Linked DNA regions of Homo sapiens: region 1 is linked to region 2. The links come from fine-mapping of genetic effects on gene expression. Tissue or cell type: whole blood. Region 2 holds a variant in brackets; the other region holds the start of a gene. All regions are shown on one strand. Distances are between the middles of the regions.

Region 1 (8,106 bases), 80 kb after region 2:
ACAGTCGTTCACTGAGCAGAGACTGAGGAGCCTCCTGGGATTGGGCTCATCCTCAGGAAAAGCGGAGCCAGTCCCAAGCTTGAACCAGTGACAAGTCCTTGGATGTCGGAGAGAAGTAGAACGTTGAGGTACAGTAAGAAACCCTTGTTGACTTCCAGAAGTGCTTGAGGGATTTTGTGGGGAGCTGAGGCCTGGAGAGAGTCAGCTGTTCTGAAATGTAGGCTGTGACTCCTGATGTGTGCCATCTTTATGTACAAGCCAGTGAGGCCTAGAGCTCTCAGGTTAGACTTAAAATTTCCCTCTGACACTCACACAGACACTGAGGGGCAATGTGCACTGTACTCTTTTCCTCTTTATTTTATAGAGCCCCAAGTTTATTCGGAGGGTAACATATTTGGGAAAGGTATGCCCCTTCCTCTTCCCCATGGAATAAACCATATTTGGTCAAAGCCAGGCATGATCATTCCATTTCCCTGTGCTCATGGTTGGTGTAGGGTAGCAAGTGATCCACGACTTCACCTCATGATAAACGGTAGGGAGGCTAGCCCTCTTCTGCATTGAATGAGGTTGCATGAGCAAGCAATGCTTGCAGCTGTGGCAGCCTTTTTGTAACCATGTGGCAACAAGCCTAAGAGGAAAGCTACTGAAGATGGCAGAGCAGAAAGAGAGAACCTGGGCCTGTCATGATATTTCTGGGACCATCTGTATGTCACCTGGATTCTGCTCTGGCAGTTGAGGCAGGATGAGAGGGGTGAGAGATGAGACGATGTGTACTAGCAGTCTGGAAGAGGTCCACGGAGGGTCAGTTTGTTCAGGAAGCATACCCTTCCACTTTCACCAGTGAAAGTCCCACTTGAGTTTCTAGGGCTCTAGTCCTAACCTAACCAGATGCTTTCATCACTGCAGTTGTTTTCCAGGAGTCAGGATCTAGAGGTAGTCAGATGGCAGATGGCTCCTCCTGCCCCTTTTTAGCCTGACCCTGTGAAGTAGATATTGTTATCCCATCTTATACATAAGAAATAGGGGCTTAGAAAGATTAATTGACTTGTCCAACATCAACAGCAGAGCTGGGAATCAAACCTGGAGTCTCTGTTGCTAAGACCTGGGCTCTGCTCCCTGCACACCAATTGCTTTCAAGACTAAACCAGCTGGGTGTAGTGGCTCACACTTGTAATCCCGGCACTTTGGGAGGCTGAGATGGGAGGATCGCTTGAGCCCAGGGGTTCAAGACCAGCCTGGGCAACATAGTGGGACACTGTCTCTACAAAAACATTACAAATTAACCAGGCATGGTGGTGTGCACCTGTAGTCCTAGCCACTTGGGAGGCTGGGGTGGGAGGATCACCTGAGCCCAGGAGGTTGAGGCTGCAGTAAGCTATGATCCCACCATGGTGCTACAGCTTCAGTGACAGAGTGAGACTCTTGTTTCAAAAAAAAAAAAAAAAAAGACTAAATGCCATGACTCTCTTCGGATTCCACCCTTCCTCCTCGTGTTTCCTGAATAATAACCTGTTAATAATAATTATTATAATATTTAATAATAATAATTGGCACCCCCATGGACCCAGTGAGTCCAGCTCAAATCCTAGCGTGGATCAGGGGTTGAAGGAGTCAGGAAAATGTATGATTCATTTCACAAAGACTTTGTGAAGAGGGGCGGGTTGTTGTGTGAGTCAGAGGGTACCAGGTGGGGCTGGGGTGGGGAGAGGACGGAGAAGGGAAAGCTTTGCTGGTGAGGGACACCGGGGACCTGAAACTCAGTGGACTGCAACACAGACGGGAACAGGGCACAGCCCTGTGCTGGAGACTTCCTACTTGGGTGCTATCGTTTGGAAATCTGTCCTCCCAAATCTCATGCTGAAATGTAATCCCCAGTGTTGGAGGTGGGGCCTAGTGGAAGCAGTGGAGCAGTTTCTGATGAATGGTTTAGTGCCATCCTTTTTAGTGCTGTCCTCATGATAGTGAGTGAGTTCTCACTAGATCCGGTTGTTAAAAAAGGTGTGGCACCTCCCCCCACCTCTTGCTCCTGCTTTCCCCATGTGACATGCCTGCTCCCACTTCACCCTCTGCCACTAGTAAAGCTCCCTGAGGCCCCTTGGAAGCCAAGCAGATGCTGGCACTATGGTTTACAGGCTGCAGAACTGTGAGCCAAATAAACCTCTTTTCTTTGTAAATTACCCAGTCTCAGATATTTCCCTATAGCAATGTAAGAATGGCCTAATACATTGGGTGATTCAGGGAAGGTTTCCTGATGGAGGTTGGGCTCTGAAAAGGGGAAATGGTGATTCTGGGCACAGGAAATGCTAGAGCAGAGCCCAGGCCCAGCAGCTGCAGGGCGTGCAGGAACCACTCATAGCAACCAGCCAGACACCGTTCGCCTCCTCTCCCTCTGCAAAATCTCCACTCACTCCTTTGGATATTGCTCTGACCATCCCCGCCCCGTCCTGTGACCTCTGCGGACTGGCATCCCAGCAGGATGGCCCAGCTCTCCAGCCTGGCAGCCAGAGCCTTCTCCACTAGGCCTTTTTCTCTTCACTCTCCTGGGCATGGCACCCCTGGGCAAACTCCTAACTACCACCTCTGCCTGGTATAGCTGGAACCACCCCACTGTGAAGCCTCCCTCACTCTGTAAAAGCCAGTACCCCAGGAAGCCTCCTCTAACCCTTTGCCCTCTGCCACTCCAAGGAAGTGCTATTGGAGGAGCTGCCTGATCTCTCTGGCCTTCTGTGTGGCAGCAGAAGTTTGTGTCAACTGCTGTGGGAACGTGATTGGTGGAGCAGGTGATTCCAGAACTCACGTGACCAGGACACGGAATGTGTGGGCTTGCCAATATTTTGATATATAAATCAACTGTTTTCATTATGGAAGTAACAAAACCTCAAGGGAAATAGAAAAAAAAATTCCCTGTAATCATCCCACCCAGCTAGGAGGTCTACTGTGTGTGTTTTTGACATTTTGCTGTCCTCGTTGGTGCAAGGGCAGATGTGACTGTTTATGCCTGTGGAGGGCAGAGGGGTTTTTCTTCTTCTTGTCTTTTTTTAGAGACAGGGTCTCCCTCTTTTGCCCAGCCTGGATGGAATGCAGTGGCATGATCCCAGCTCACTGCAGCCTCGAACCCCTGGCCTCAAAGGATCCTCCTGCCTCAGCCTCCCAAGTAGCTGGGACTACAGGCACCTGCCACCGTGCCTGGCTGATTTATTTTTTATTTGTTTGTTTAGAGATGGGGTCTCCCTACATTGGCCAGGCTGGTCTTGAACTCCTGGCCTCAAATGTTCCTCCTGTCTTGGCCTCCCAAAGTTTTGGGATTATAGGCGTGAGCCATGTTGTCGTCATTACAGCTACATTGAGATATAATTTATGTGCCACACAATGCATGCCTTTCAAGTGTACAGTTCAGTGGCATTGAGGTATATCCACAGAACCGTACAACCATCACCACATTGAGAAAATTTTTATCACCCTAAAAAATCCTTTACAAAATCCTTTACCCTTTAGCAGTCACCCCATGTTTTGATTTTTGCTTTACATGATTTTACAAGCATCTTTTCCTGTTGCTGGAAAATCTCCTTACCCATCCTCTTTGGTGACTGTCAGCAAAGGCTTTCGGGTGGTGAAATAGCGTGGCCAGGAGTGCTCTAGAACAATGGTGTTGGTGAGGGCTGCAGAAGCTGAGGACCCACAGGCAGAGAGGGAGGGATGGTAGAAGCAGGTGGTGAGGAGGGACTCGGGGCAGGACTTTGGGGGTAAAAGGAAGCAAGTCTCTGGAAGCAGAACCAGCAGCACTGCTGATCATTGGGACGTGGAGAAAGGCGAAGGCTCAGGGTGTCAGCAAACTTCCTAGGGTGGGTGAGGGTTGCCAGGTCAATAACGAACAGGGTCCCAGGAAAAGGCGGCAGCACAGGTTTGGGGAGAATTAGAGATGAGCTTGGTTTTGGTCTTGTTGGATTTGGGGGCACCAGTCTCTCTCCTGGCGAGAGTCGGCAGTGGGGTGTTAGGATCTGGCCCTCAGGAGGCTGTTAGGGCTGAAGCAAGAGATTTGGGAGTTAAGGGTGTGAGGGCCACGTGGGAGGCCTCGGGAGCCTGTGCCGATCCAGGGTGAGTGTGAAGGAAAGAAAAAAGAGGGCCCGGGGAACACTGGTATTTTCGGGCGGTGGACGAGGATGGGACGGCCACGAGCTTGTCTTAAGGTAGAAGGCAGAGCGGGGCCGTAGGGGCAGTGGCGCGGGCGAGGGTGGAGAACAGCGCTGAGCCTCGCTGGGAGGCGGCCGGAGGGGGCTGCAGCCCCCGAGGGCTCCTTGCAGTCCGGCCCCGCAGCCTGGAGACAGCTCCGGTGGTGCTGCGCTGCCCGAGACTGCTGCACGAGCGGGGACTGCGGCCTCGGCTCCCTGCCTGCCCGGCAGCCCCCCATCCAGTCGGCCTGCCCGGGGTGCGCAGGGTTAGCCTGGAGTGAGCTCGCCCCGCCCGGGGTTGCGCGGCCCTGGGGGGTCCTCTCGCGGCGGCTCCTGGGACCTGCTGGCGCCCCGGGCAGAGCCCGGCCCCATCCCAGGAGTCGCCCGGACTGGAAGGCAGTGCGAGCACTGGGACACAGCCTCCGAGCTCGAGCGTGACGGGAAGTTGGGGCAATTTGTTAGTTATCCGCCGCCACCAAGACGCGGCACGGCGCCTGGACCGGAGGGGCCCCGCGCGGGCGCGAACTTTGGGCTCGGGCGAGTGGGTGGTGCTCCGCCCAGCCCGAGACGGGCGGGCGCGCGGGCCAATGGGTGCCGCCTCTTGGCCGCGGGGGGCCCCGACCCGTGGGTCCCGGCCACCAGCGCCCCAGCCCCGAGGCTCAGAAGCGGCAGGCGGAGGCGCGGTCCGGGCGCTATGGCCATGCCCGGCGGGTCTCACGCGGCTGCCCCTCGCCCGGCGCGCCTTCGGTAGGGGGCGCCCGGGGCCCAGCTGGCCCGGCCATGCTGCTGGAGACACAGGACGCGCTGTACGTGGCGCTGGAGCTGGTCATCGCCGCGCTTTCGGTGGCGGGCAACGTGCTGGTGTGCGCCGCGGTGGGCACGGCGAACACTCTGCAGACGCCCACCAACTACTTCCTGGTGTCCCTGGCTGCGGCCGACGTGGCCGTGGGGCTCTTCGCCATCCCCTTTGCCATCACCATCAGCCTGGGCTTCTGCACTGACTTCTACGGCTGCCTCTTCCTCGCCTGCTTCGTGCTGGTGCTCACGCAGAGCTCCATCTTCAGCCTTCTGGCCGTGGCAGTCGACAGATACCTGGCCATCTGTGTCCCGCTCAGGTGAGGCGCTCGGCGTCGCCCGAACTCGGGGCCCCGTCGGAGCTCCGAAATGGGTCGTCTTCTCCAGGCCGGGGTTCCTCCCTCGGGGGCCCCAGACGGGCCAGGCTGGGGGCGCGCGGGGCGCTTGGAGGGCTGGTTCCCAGCCTGGCCACCCCGCAACGCTAGACCAGTGCGCCCGGGCACCCAAGACATCCCAGATGCGCGTCGCTCTAAGGAGATCTGCGTAGGGACAGCTCTAGGGGGTCCGGGGAGTGCGGTCCCCGGCGCCCGGGGAGGCGCCGTGGAAACCCCGGGGAAAGCGTCACCCCCGGGGAAAGCGTCACCCCCGTGGGCGGGTGGAGCCCGGGGCGCGGGAGTTTTGGTGATCACATCTCCACTCCTGCCACGAAGGCCGTTCCTAACACTCGCCCGCAGCGGCGGTGCAGCGGCAGTCCCGTGAGTGCTGCGGCTCCCGGAGGCCCGGGAGGTTCCCACTAAGGGCAAGGCAACTTTGGACGCTGGGCATTCGCACCGTCAGAATGGACACGCATGAGCCAGCTTCAGAACGTGTCTGCTGCGGAGAGGCGGCCCGGCCCATCCCAGGGGAAGGTGTCCGTTAACTTTGGGGAACGCTACGGACTCAGATTATATACTTTTAAAAGGAGTTACAATGCTTCCTCGTGTCTGGCAAACGGCCTTACAGCCTCACTGCCCTTGTGTAACTATTTATCTCCTGCTGCCCTGTTGGGAGCGGGCTGAGAAGTGCAGAAAATGGTGGCGAACTTACTTGTCCACTCTTTCTCCCACACTGAGAAAATCTAGGATTCAGGGGATGGAGTCAGCCAGCGACCAGAGTGGATTCCCAGTTGGAGCTGATGACTTCAACATTGAGAGTTTGTTGAAAGTATTTATTCTCTGTCTTTGGTGCCTGGGCCACTTTGGCATTTCTGAGGAGAGCTTGAGATCTCTTTAAATTTGGAGCTGAGACAGGGAAACTAAATCACAGAGTAGGAAGGAAGGGAAGGAATTCATTTATTGGGTGCCAACTCTGTGCAGACAGTTTATAATAAACGTGTCCCCAGCAGTCCTTGCAGTAGTACCAGAGGACGGGTGCTGTAACCTTCATCTCGTAGAGGAGGGGTGATGGCCCAGGGAGGTTGGAGTCTTGCCCAGGATGGTGTATCAGGGATGGGTGTCAGAGCCGGGGCTTGAACTCACAGCTGGCACCGTGTCCCCACCCATGCCATCAGGCCACTCTGCAAGGCCATGTGTGGCACCGTGTTTAGGAGTCAGGGAGAAAAGTGCTCTGCTGTTTTGGGAGGAGGAGCCTGCCTGCAGTAAACTGGTGGTTGTAGGGGAATGTGTTTGTGGGAATGGAGCCGGAGAATGCTCCCAGAGGCCATTTGAGTAGGCAGATGTGTTGGGCCTGGTCCTTGCAGGTTGTTTCGTGGGTCCCAGCAGGAACAGGAGCCTCCTGCTTGGGAGGGCTGTGAGCCTTATGTGGGTGTCTGGCCACTCCATGTGCTGCTGCCCGTGCTGTTGGACCAGGAGGCCTTATGTCTCCCATCAGGTGTGACAGCCCAGGGATTTCCAAGGCTTAGGGAGGACAGCAGTTTCTTCTCTCTCTTCTGGATCCCTTCCCTGCCTTTTGGTGTCATCGTTGTTACTTGATGGCATTTTGGATGTTTTGCATCCAGCAGAGCAGTCACAAGCCCCAGCCTGAGTTGTCCATCTAATGGAAACCCCTTGGACTTGCCCTGGCAGAGACCAGAGACCCAGAGAGGAGTTAGTGGAACAATCTCCCAGGCCACAGGGAGCAGGAAGTTCCATGAAAGTTTAAATCTGTTCCTTCTTGTCCTGGTTTGTGCTGGGTGAGGTCTTGAAAAAAATGGGTGTGGGTGTGTTAAGGGGAAAGTGCTGTGAATCACAGGCCCTGAGCTTCTTTGCATTGCCAAGGGCAGGAGGGAAGAACACTGAGGCTCGCCCCATCCTGCCTTCCTGGCCCGTCCAGAGCTTGGAGGTCTGGAAGAGGTGCACAGGCAGTCCCCAGCTCCCTGCCCCAGAGTTAGTCGTCTGACCTGGCCACAGCACCACCCCAACCCTGGTGGGTGGGAGAGGTGTACTAGGGCCCCCAGGGCTTCCCTCTCAGGGGCTGGTGCCTGGGGCAGGCCTTCCCTCAGCTGGCCTAGCAGTTCATGGCCCCTTGGGAAGAGGTTAAAATACAGATTACAGGGCCTCACCTGGTTGTACTGAATCAGAATCTCTGGAGTGGGTGTCGAGGGGATTCCAGCAGTGGGATCTTTAACCAGGGACATTTGGGTCCAGCGATCTAAGAATCCTCCTAGATTCAGGGCCTGAAGCTTTCCTCACTTGACTGACACAGGCTGGGTGCATGGCGCCCCAAGCACTGACTTGGCCCTGAGGCCTTCCTGGGGTTGTGGAACTCCAGGTGAGAGTAAAGTTGGAAGTGCCCTGTTTGGGAGGAGGTGTGTCCCCTTTGAAGCCAAGCAATAAGGAGGGTGAGGTGCAGGGAGTGAGGGCTAAAGGCTTAGGCTAGGACAGTCCTGGGACCTACCCCCAGTTCCTCCCGGTTCGAGGGCTCCAAGTGTGAGGCCTGTGGCCGCAGAGACCACAGCCCCCACCTGCCACCGCATTGCCAAGGTGTTTACTGATGTGACAGATGACAGTGTAGAAGGGAGGGGAGCCGGAGGGAATGCCAGGGACAAATATGACGCCCTTGGCCTGGCCCTTTGCCTTCAGGACAGGGCTGGCCACAAACAGAAGTCCATTGCCTCTGGTTCAAGTCCATAGACAATTCCTGATGTTGGGCCCTGGCGGCGGGG
Region 2 (8,106 bases):
TCATCACATTGAGGCATTTTCCTGCCACTCTGTCTCTCTCTCTCTCTCTGATGTCTGTCAATTAAAACATTACCTGGGGGCAGGTAATGTCTTTCCCCAGGTAAGGGCAATTTCATAAGGTGCATGCTGGGTTTAATGCTCTGATGACATCGTCTTGAAATTCACAATAATTTTTGAACAAGGGTTGATTTGCATATAGATCCTATAAAGGAAGTGGTGGTCCTGCCTGGAGAATCCACGTCCCTATTGCATTTTCATTACATCAGAAGCATATATATGTTTATACTTGAGGATAAAATGAGAACTGTGTTGTACTGGAGAATGATGTTTGATGGCAATCAAGAGCCTCTTCTTCAGGAATAGGTGATTATGTGGTCGTTCCCACCGATCTTTGAAAGGGAAGGACCTAGGAACTGAAGCCAGACCCCCACCTCTGCAAGAGTTCCTTGCTGGAGTCACTCAGCAGACCCCCACTCTCTGGACTTTGGGGACATGAGACTGCTGAGCACCTCCACCAGAGGGAAAGTGGAAGTGGCCCCAAGAAAGAGGGAACCACGAAGCAGTTTCAGGTATCATGTCTCAAACAGTAAGAAATCAGAAAAACATAGGGCTGATCAGCTTTGATTGTTCCTTCTGTTTTGTCCTCCTGGACAATTGACTTCGACAAATACTTGCTGCATGAAAATAATTAAGATGCAGTGCCCGTCTTCAGTGAGTTTAAAAGGAGGATGCTGGACAGTAAGTAGTGTGCAAGATTAAATTAAGAGCTGTAAAAAGACAATACTAAATAGGCAAAGTACTTGAGAGTTGTTAGTTGGCATAAGAAATGTAGAGAGAAGTAGAAGTTCAGGGAATGGGGTGGTAATGTGTGTCTGGACTAGACTGGGCTTCCTAAGGCCAGGGACTCTGCCATATATATGCATGGTAGGCTCTCTGTCAGTATTTGTTGGGTGGATGGATAGGTGACTAGGACATTCCAGCTGGAAGGCAGGTTGGAGCCATATTGCAAATCTTCATTGCTAAGGAAGAGGTTTGTGCTTTATTTTGATAAAGCACTGAGGAGCCACCAAGTTTGTGGGATTTTATTCCTGTTTTTGAGTTATGGTACAGTGAGATTGGACCCATATTTTAAGGAGGAGTCATCAGAAAACAGTGGCATGTAAGGATTAGAGAGGCATTTTGAAATCAGTGTTTAAGGAGGACTTTGGCAGGGATGTGAAGGAGGGCTTGGCAGAGGGCAGGACTGCAAGACCAACAGGGTGGTCCCTAAGAGGTGGTCTTTGCTGCCACACCTCTGTCACCTCCTCCCTTTTCAGTGCCCCTGGTCACCCAGGTTACAGCAAACCTCTTTCAACTGTTTCCTCTCTCATGTCTTCCTGCTTCTTCATGTTGGTTAATCTTCTGAAGCACTGAGCACATCCTGCTGCAGACCTTGCAGAAATTTCCCATGACTCTGTCCTCTGCACTCCTCATCCTGATCTTCTAGATGCTCCACTACTTAGCACCACCCCTGCCCACCTGCCAGAATGGCCCAGCCTCTCCCTCCACCTGAACCTGTTTTAGTCCGTGCCTTAGCAATAGTGCACAAGCATATTTGAGTGTAAGTCTTTGTGTATAAGGTTCTAACTTGAATTGTCCTCCTTTTGTCCTTTCACAGTCTAAATACTGTTCTCTTTATTTAAAGGTCAAAACTTTCATGAAGTTATAGCTAACACCTGGCAGCATTGACAGCTCCCTTCTCCCTTTTTTTTTTCTTTTTCTTTTCTTTTCTTTTCTTTTTTTTTTTTTTTTTTTTTTGAGACAGATCCTCACTCTGTCACCAAGGCTGGAGTACAGTGGCGTGATCTGGGCTCACTGCAACCTCTGCCTCCTGGGTCCAAGTGATTCTCATGCCTCAGCCTCCTGAGTAGCTGGGATTATAAAGGCATGCACCATGACACCCAGCTAATTTTTGTATTTTTTTTAGTAGAGACAGGATTTCACCATTTTGGCTAGGCTGGTCTCAAACTCCTGATCTGCCCACTTCAGCCTCCCAAAACGCTGGGATTGCAGGTGTGAGCCTCCATGCCTGGCCAACATCTCCCTTCTTTGACTTTGGTGTCTTACGCTATTTCAGGTGTTTAATTTCTGTACTGCTTTGTGGTGTGGATAACTTCTGCACAATATATGCCTTAATCTCCATTTATGCTGTAATTTAGTGGACAGTAAATGTTCAGCTTACCTTTGGTATCTCTCCCAGCCCCTTGCATTGTGCAACACACATAACATTTCACTCAGTAAAACTTACGAATGAGTATGCTCATTCATATACAATATGAACGTATTGTTTATTTATCAGTATACAAAATCGGCTACTTTTGGAGTAATAGCTTTTTTTTTTTTTTTTGGGAGACAGAGTCTCACTGCAACCTCTGCCTCGGGTTCAAGCAGTTCTCCTGCGTCAGCCTCCTAAGTAGCTAGTAGTAGCTTTTTAATACATATTATCATTACTAATAAGGGTACTATCAAAGGATTTATGAAAGTCTGAATGAATAAGCTAGGACTTATTGTTATACCTTTGGATGTAGCCTATATTTGCACCCAAATAGATGAAGTCATATATTTTAGAGGTTTAATTTAAAGCCCCAGATATTACATATTGTCCTGTTTATGTGCGCGAGATTTAAATAATCAAAAGAGGTTTTAAAAACCAGAATTAGTGCTATTCTAAAATTCTCCTTTTCATTATACCAGAAATGCATACAGGAAGGCTATGGGTATATTAATATGCTTCTGATATTTTATCTTTCATAGTGAAAAGTTAAATTAGTAAAATCAATTTATTTCAATTTTACATTTATCTCATTGAGATAAAGCAATGGCAGGATATCTGGTATTTTTAATATGCCCTTCCAATATACCTTGAAAAATTTTTTTTTATTTTTTAGAGATGGGGGTCTCGCTCTGTTGCCCAGGATGGAGTGCAGTGGTATAATCATAATTCACTACATCCTTGAACTCCTGGCCTCAAGCAGTCCTCCCACCTCAGCCTCCTGAATAGCTGGGACTACAGGTGTGCGCTACCATGCCCAGCTTATTTATTTATTTATTTATTTATTTCAGAGTTGAGGTCTCACTATGTTTCTCAGGCTGGTTTCAAGCTCCTGGGCTCAGGTAATCCTCCTGCCTCAGCTTTCCAAAGTGCTGGGATTACAGGCGTGAGCCACTGTGCTGTGCCCGTCTCTACCTTTTAAATGTTATTTAGATACTGATGTAGTCTTGAAACCTGTAGAATGCTTTTGTATAGATACCCTTAATTCAAATGAGTTTGAATTAAAGTTCTAGCCTGAATTATATTTACACAAATAAAAGACTAGATGGATGAGCAACAGATGGATTTTAAAACAAAATGTAGCAAAACTCTCCCCAGACTCATGACAGTCAGGAGGCACAATTTCATGTTTATTTCACACTGTGAGACATCAAATACATTATTAATGTAACTAATGTGGTTGTTTCTTCAGATTCTGGCTGAATAAACCAGACATTTGCTTTTCTAAAGTAGGTATTTAGTTCTTGTGAATTTGAGGATTCTAAACATTAGCATCTTCTCCTTAACGTGCTCTTCTCTCTAACCAGTGTGGAAAGAAGAAACCCTCTGGTGGCCTTGGCCCGGGAATATGGCGGTTTCAAGTGCAATGCTGTACTGAAATGGTACCAGAAGAAGACAGAAGGTTACATGGTAAGGGACAATGTCAGCCAGCTTCCACCAGCCCTGGGCAGTAGTAGGCCTGTGCCAGTACATGTTCCATGTGTGCCTGTGCTTGGTGGACCAATATGCATGTAATTATCATCTTTCTGTTCTCCTAGACAGAGAGGCATATGCAACGGGAAGCCAGTTTGCACTCCCACCAAACATATGGGTGTATGCAGAGCTGCATCTCCCTAGGGAAGGGGGACCTTTTCCTTTGCTCAAAGTGTTACCGATCATGGGTTCTTAGGCTCTTGATGCAATAGAAATTCTCACCAGGCCAAAAGAGTTTTCCTAGCAAGGCTTTATTGGAGCATATGCCCAGGCACAAGGGAGGAAGCACAGGAGAGGGAGGATTCTCTGGCTGACTCCCTGAAATGAGCTGATAGGGATTTCTTTTATTAGGCAATGTGCGGAAATTGATGTCAAGGTAGGGAATGTGGGCTGGGCAGGGTAGAGAACGTGAGGGGGAGGGGACATGGGTCGGCTTATCTGCTGGCAATGGTTGTCTTGAGTAATGGGCCATCTGGTGCTCTGGTTAGTGGCAGCAAGGCTGTATGAATCAGTTGTTTAGCATTCCTTCCTGAGGTGGGATACTTGCAACCTTGGTTGGATATTTTGGATCTCCTAAGGCCAGTTCCTGTAATCCTTTAAGTAAAAGGCAAGGTTAAACATTATGAGAGCACC[G/A]AAGAACAATATAGAATGGCTGTTTTCTTTGCGTGACTGTTAGTGGGTATGGCATCAGTGAGGTAGTGGTGTGGGTTTTGTGATCAGTGGGAATGCATGAAAGAATGCTGTAGTGGGGCCTCCACCCAAGGAGACAGCTTTTGCTAAATTACACTCCCAAAGAAGAGTGCTTTGCCTAATTCATATAAAGGCCCTACATAAATGAGCCTCCAAAACTTCTCCAAATATTTTCTTTCTGTTGCTTTCAGAGTTGTTTGCATTTAGTTTAAAGAGTTTTTGTTTACTAGGACAGTATCTGTTTTCTGTTCAGAAAAGGAATTAATACCTGGTATAAGTTTAAGTTTTTTGTGCGTGTGAAACACTATACACAAAGATAAAAATGCACAAAATATAAACTATAGTGTTTTTTTTGTTGTTGTTGTTTAAGAGACGGAGTCTCATTCTGTTGCCCAGGCTGGAGTGCAGTGGCGTGATCTCGGCTCACTGCAACCTCTGCCTCCCGGGTTCAAGCAATTCTCCTGCCTCGACCTCCGGAGTAGCTGGGATTACAGTCGTGAGCCACCACACCTGGTTAATTTTTGTATTGTTACTAGAGATGGGGTTTCACCGTGTTGGCCAGGCTGGTCTCAAACTCCTGTCCTCAGGTGATCCACCTACCTCAGCCTCCCAAAGTCCTGGGATTACAGGCATGAGCCACCACTCCTGGCCTCAAATGATAGTCTCTTGAACTATGAGGAAGTGAAAAGTCACACAGTCACCACTCGCATCCAGAAGAAGAGCATCGCCAGCTCCCACAGACCTTTCCTACAACTTTCCCATCATAACCCCTCACTACTCCCTAAGATAACCATTGTCCTCAATTATTCTCCTTATGGATTTTCACAAAAGTATGCAGCCCTGAATATTATGTTAGTATTGCTTGCATTTGAATTTTATTATAAATGGAATTTTAAAAACTATGTAATTTTGCATGTATCTTTTTTTTTTTTTGGTTTTAGGGAGCGGAAAGTTTAATAGGCAAGAAGGATGGGAGAAGGCAGAAAATGGAGGCTCCCCTGTACAGAGACAGAGGGAGGGGAGCTTTTTTTTACACAGTATTGAATCAGTGAGATTTATTCATGTTGTCACCTATACTGTAATTTGTTCATTTTCTTCACCATTTAGTAACCCATTGTAGGATTATAGCATTATTTAGTTACCCATTCTATTATTGATAGATCGTTGAGTCAAGTCCAGTTTGGGGCTAAGGTGAATAGCGCTGTTATGTTCTTGTCGATGTCTCTTGAAACACATATGTGCTTGTTCCTGTTGGTTACATCCTTCAGAATGGAATTCCTGGGCCTTAGGGTATGCATACATTCTAGGATAGTACCAAACAGATGCCTGAAATATTTGTATAATTTATGTCTTTTCAGCAATTTATGAGAGGTCAATTTCTGTGCATTTTCATCAACACTTGGTAGCATCAGTCTTTTTACTGGAGGTCATGTGGGTAATGTGTAGTAGTGTCTCATTGAGGTTTTGATTTGCATTTTTCTTTTGGCAGTGGAGATTGAGCACCTTTTCATATGCAAATTGGCCATGTGGATAGTCCCTTTTGGGATGCACCTGCTCAGGTTTTTTGCCCACTTTGTTTGTTTGGTGGTGGGGAGCGGGGGTATTGGCTCTGTAAACAGCATATGAACTTTTGTCCATTTTAAGAATCAGATGTCATTCTCTTCCTTATTGCTTTTAAGAATTCTTTATATATTCTCCATGTAAGTCCTTTGTCAAATACATATATGGCAAATACCTTCTTCCAGTGTGCCTTAAATTTTCTTCTTTTGGCTCTCCCTCTGCCTCTGCCTCTGCCGCTGCCGCTGCCTCTGCCGCTGCCGCTGCCTCTGCCTCTGCCGCTGCCTCTCTTTCCACAGTCTCCCTCTGATGCCGAGCCAAAGCTGGACCCTCTGCCTCTCTTTCCACAGTCTCCCTCTGATGCCGAGCCAAAGCTGGACTGTACTGCTGCCATCTCAGCTCACTGCAACCTCCCTGCCGGATTCTCCTGCCTCAGCCTGCCGAGTGCCTGCGATTGCAGGCGCGCGCCGCCACGCCTGACTGGTTTTCGTATTTTTTTGGTGGAGACGGGGTTTCGATGTGTTGGCCGGGCTGGTCTCCAGCTCCTAACTGCGAGTGATCCGCCAGCCTCGGCCTCCCGAGGTGCCGGGATGGCAGACGGAGTCGCGTTCACTCAGTGCTCAATGGTGCCCAGGCTGGAGTGCAGTGGCGTGATCTCGGCTCGCTACAACCTCCACCTCCCAGCTGCCTGCCTTGGCCCCCCAAAGTGCCGAGATTGCAGCCTCTGCCCGGCCGCCACCCCGTCTGGGAAGTGAGGAGCATCTCTGCCTGGCCGCCCATTGTCTGGGATGTGAGGAGCCTCTCTGCCTGGCTGCCCAGTCTGGAAAGTGAGGAGCATCTCTGCCCGGCCGCCATCCCATCTATGAAGTGAGGAGCGTCTCTGCCAGGCCGCCCATCGTCTGAGATGTGGGGAGCTCCTCTGCTCTGCCGCCCCATCTGGGATGTGAGGAGTGTCTCTGCCCGGCCGCCCCATCTGAGAAGTGAGGAGACCCTCTGCCTGGCAACCGCCCCGTCTGAGAAGTGAGGAGCCCCTCTGCCCGGCGGCCACTCTGTCTGGGAAGTGAGGAGCGTCTCCGCCCGGCAGCCACCCCGTCCGGGAGGGAGGCGGGGGTCAGCCCCCCGCCCGGCCAGCCACCCCGTCGGGAAGGGAGGCGGGGGGGTCAGCCCGCCGCCCAGCCAGCCGCCCCATCCGGGAGGGAGGTGGGGAGGTCAGCCCCCCGCCCGGCCAGCCGCCCCGTCCGGGAGGTGAGGGGCGCCTCTGCCCGGCCGCCCCTACTGGGAAGTGAGGAGCCCCTCTGCCCGGCCAGCCGCCCCGTCCGGGAGGTGAGGGGCGCCTCTGCCCGGCCGCCCCTACTGGGAAGTGAGGAGCCCCTCTGCCCGGCCACCACCCTGTCTGGGAGGTGTACTCAACAGCTCATTGAGAACGGGTCATGATGACAATGGCGGTTTTGTGGAATAGAAAGGGGGGAAAGGTGGGGAAAAGATTGAGAAATCGGATGGTTGCCGTGTCTGTGTAGAAAGAGGTAGACATGGGAGACTTTTCATTTTGTTCTGTACTAAGAAAAATTCTTCTGCCTTGGGATCCTGTTGATCTGTGACCTTACCCCCAATCCTGTGCTCTCTGAAACATGTGCTGTGTCCACTCAGGGTTGAATGGATTAAGGGCGGTGCAAGATGTGCTTTGTTAAACAGATGCTTGAAGGCAGCATGCTCGTTAAGAGTCATCACCACTCCCTAATCTCAAGCACCCAGGGACACAAACACTGCGGAAGGCTGCAGGGTCCTCTGCCTAGGAAAACCAGAGACCTTTGTTCACTTGTTTATCTGTTGACCTTCCCTCCACTATTGTCCTGTGACCCTGCCAAATCCCCCTCTGCGAGAAACACCCAAGAATGATCAATTAAAAAAAAAAAATGTCTTCTTTTGATGAACAAAGTTCTTAATTTTAATTAAGTCTAATTTATCAGTCTTTCCTCTAATGGTTAGTGCTTTTTGTATTCTGTATAAGAAATTGTTTATTCATGGCCGGGTGTGGTGGCTCACGCCTGTAATCCCAGCACTTTGGGAGGCCGAGG

The links. PIP is the estimated chance that this variant, and not a neighbour inherited with it, causes the effect.
Region 1: it holds the start of ADORA2B, and the variant in region 2 is fine-mapped to the expression of ADORA2B in whole blood (TOPMed, PIP 0.93).

What each region holds. Positions count from the first base shown.
Region 1 is chr17:15,940,300-15,948,405 of GRCh38, forward strand. ADORA2B (adenosine A2b receptor) reads left to right here and starts at 4,831. Exons shown (of 2, transcript NM_000676.4): 1 at 4,831-5,284. The coding sequence starts at 4,950. RefSeq lists a silencer at 4,387-5,006 and an enhancer at 4,834-5,648.
Region 2 is chr17:15,860,437-15,868,542 of GRCh38, forward strand. It overlaps a transcript of ADORA2B not described here. Among named protein-coding and RNA genes, the nearest start is that of LINC02087, 47 kb to the left of the region's middle. The variant G/A (reference allele first, on the strand shown) is at 4,418.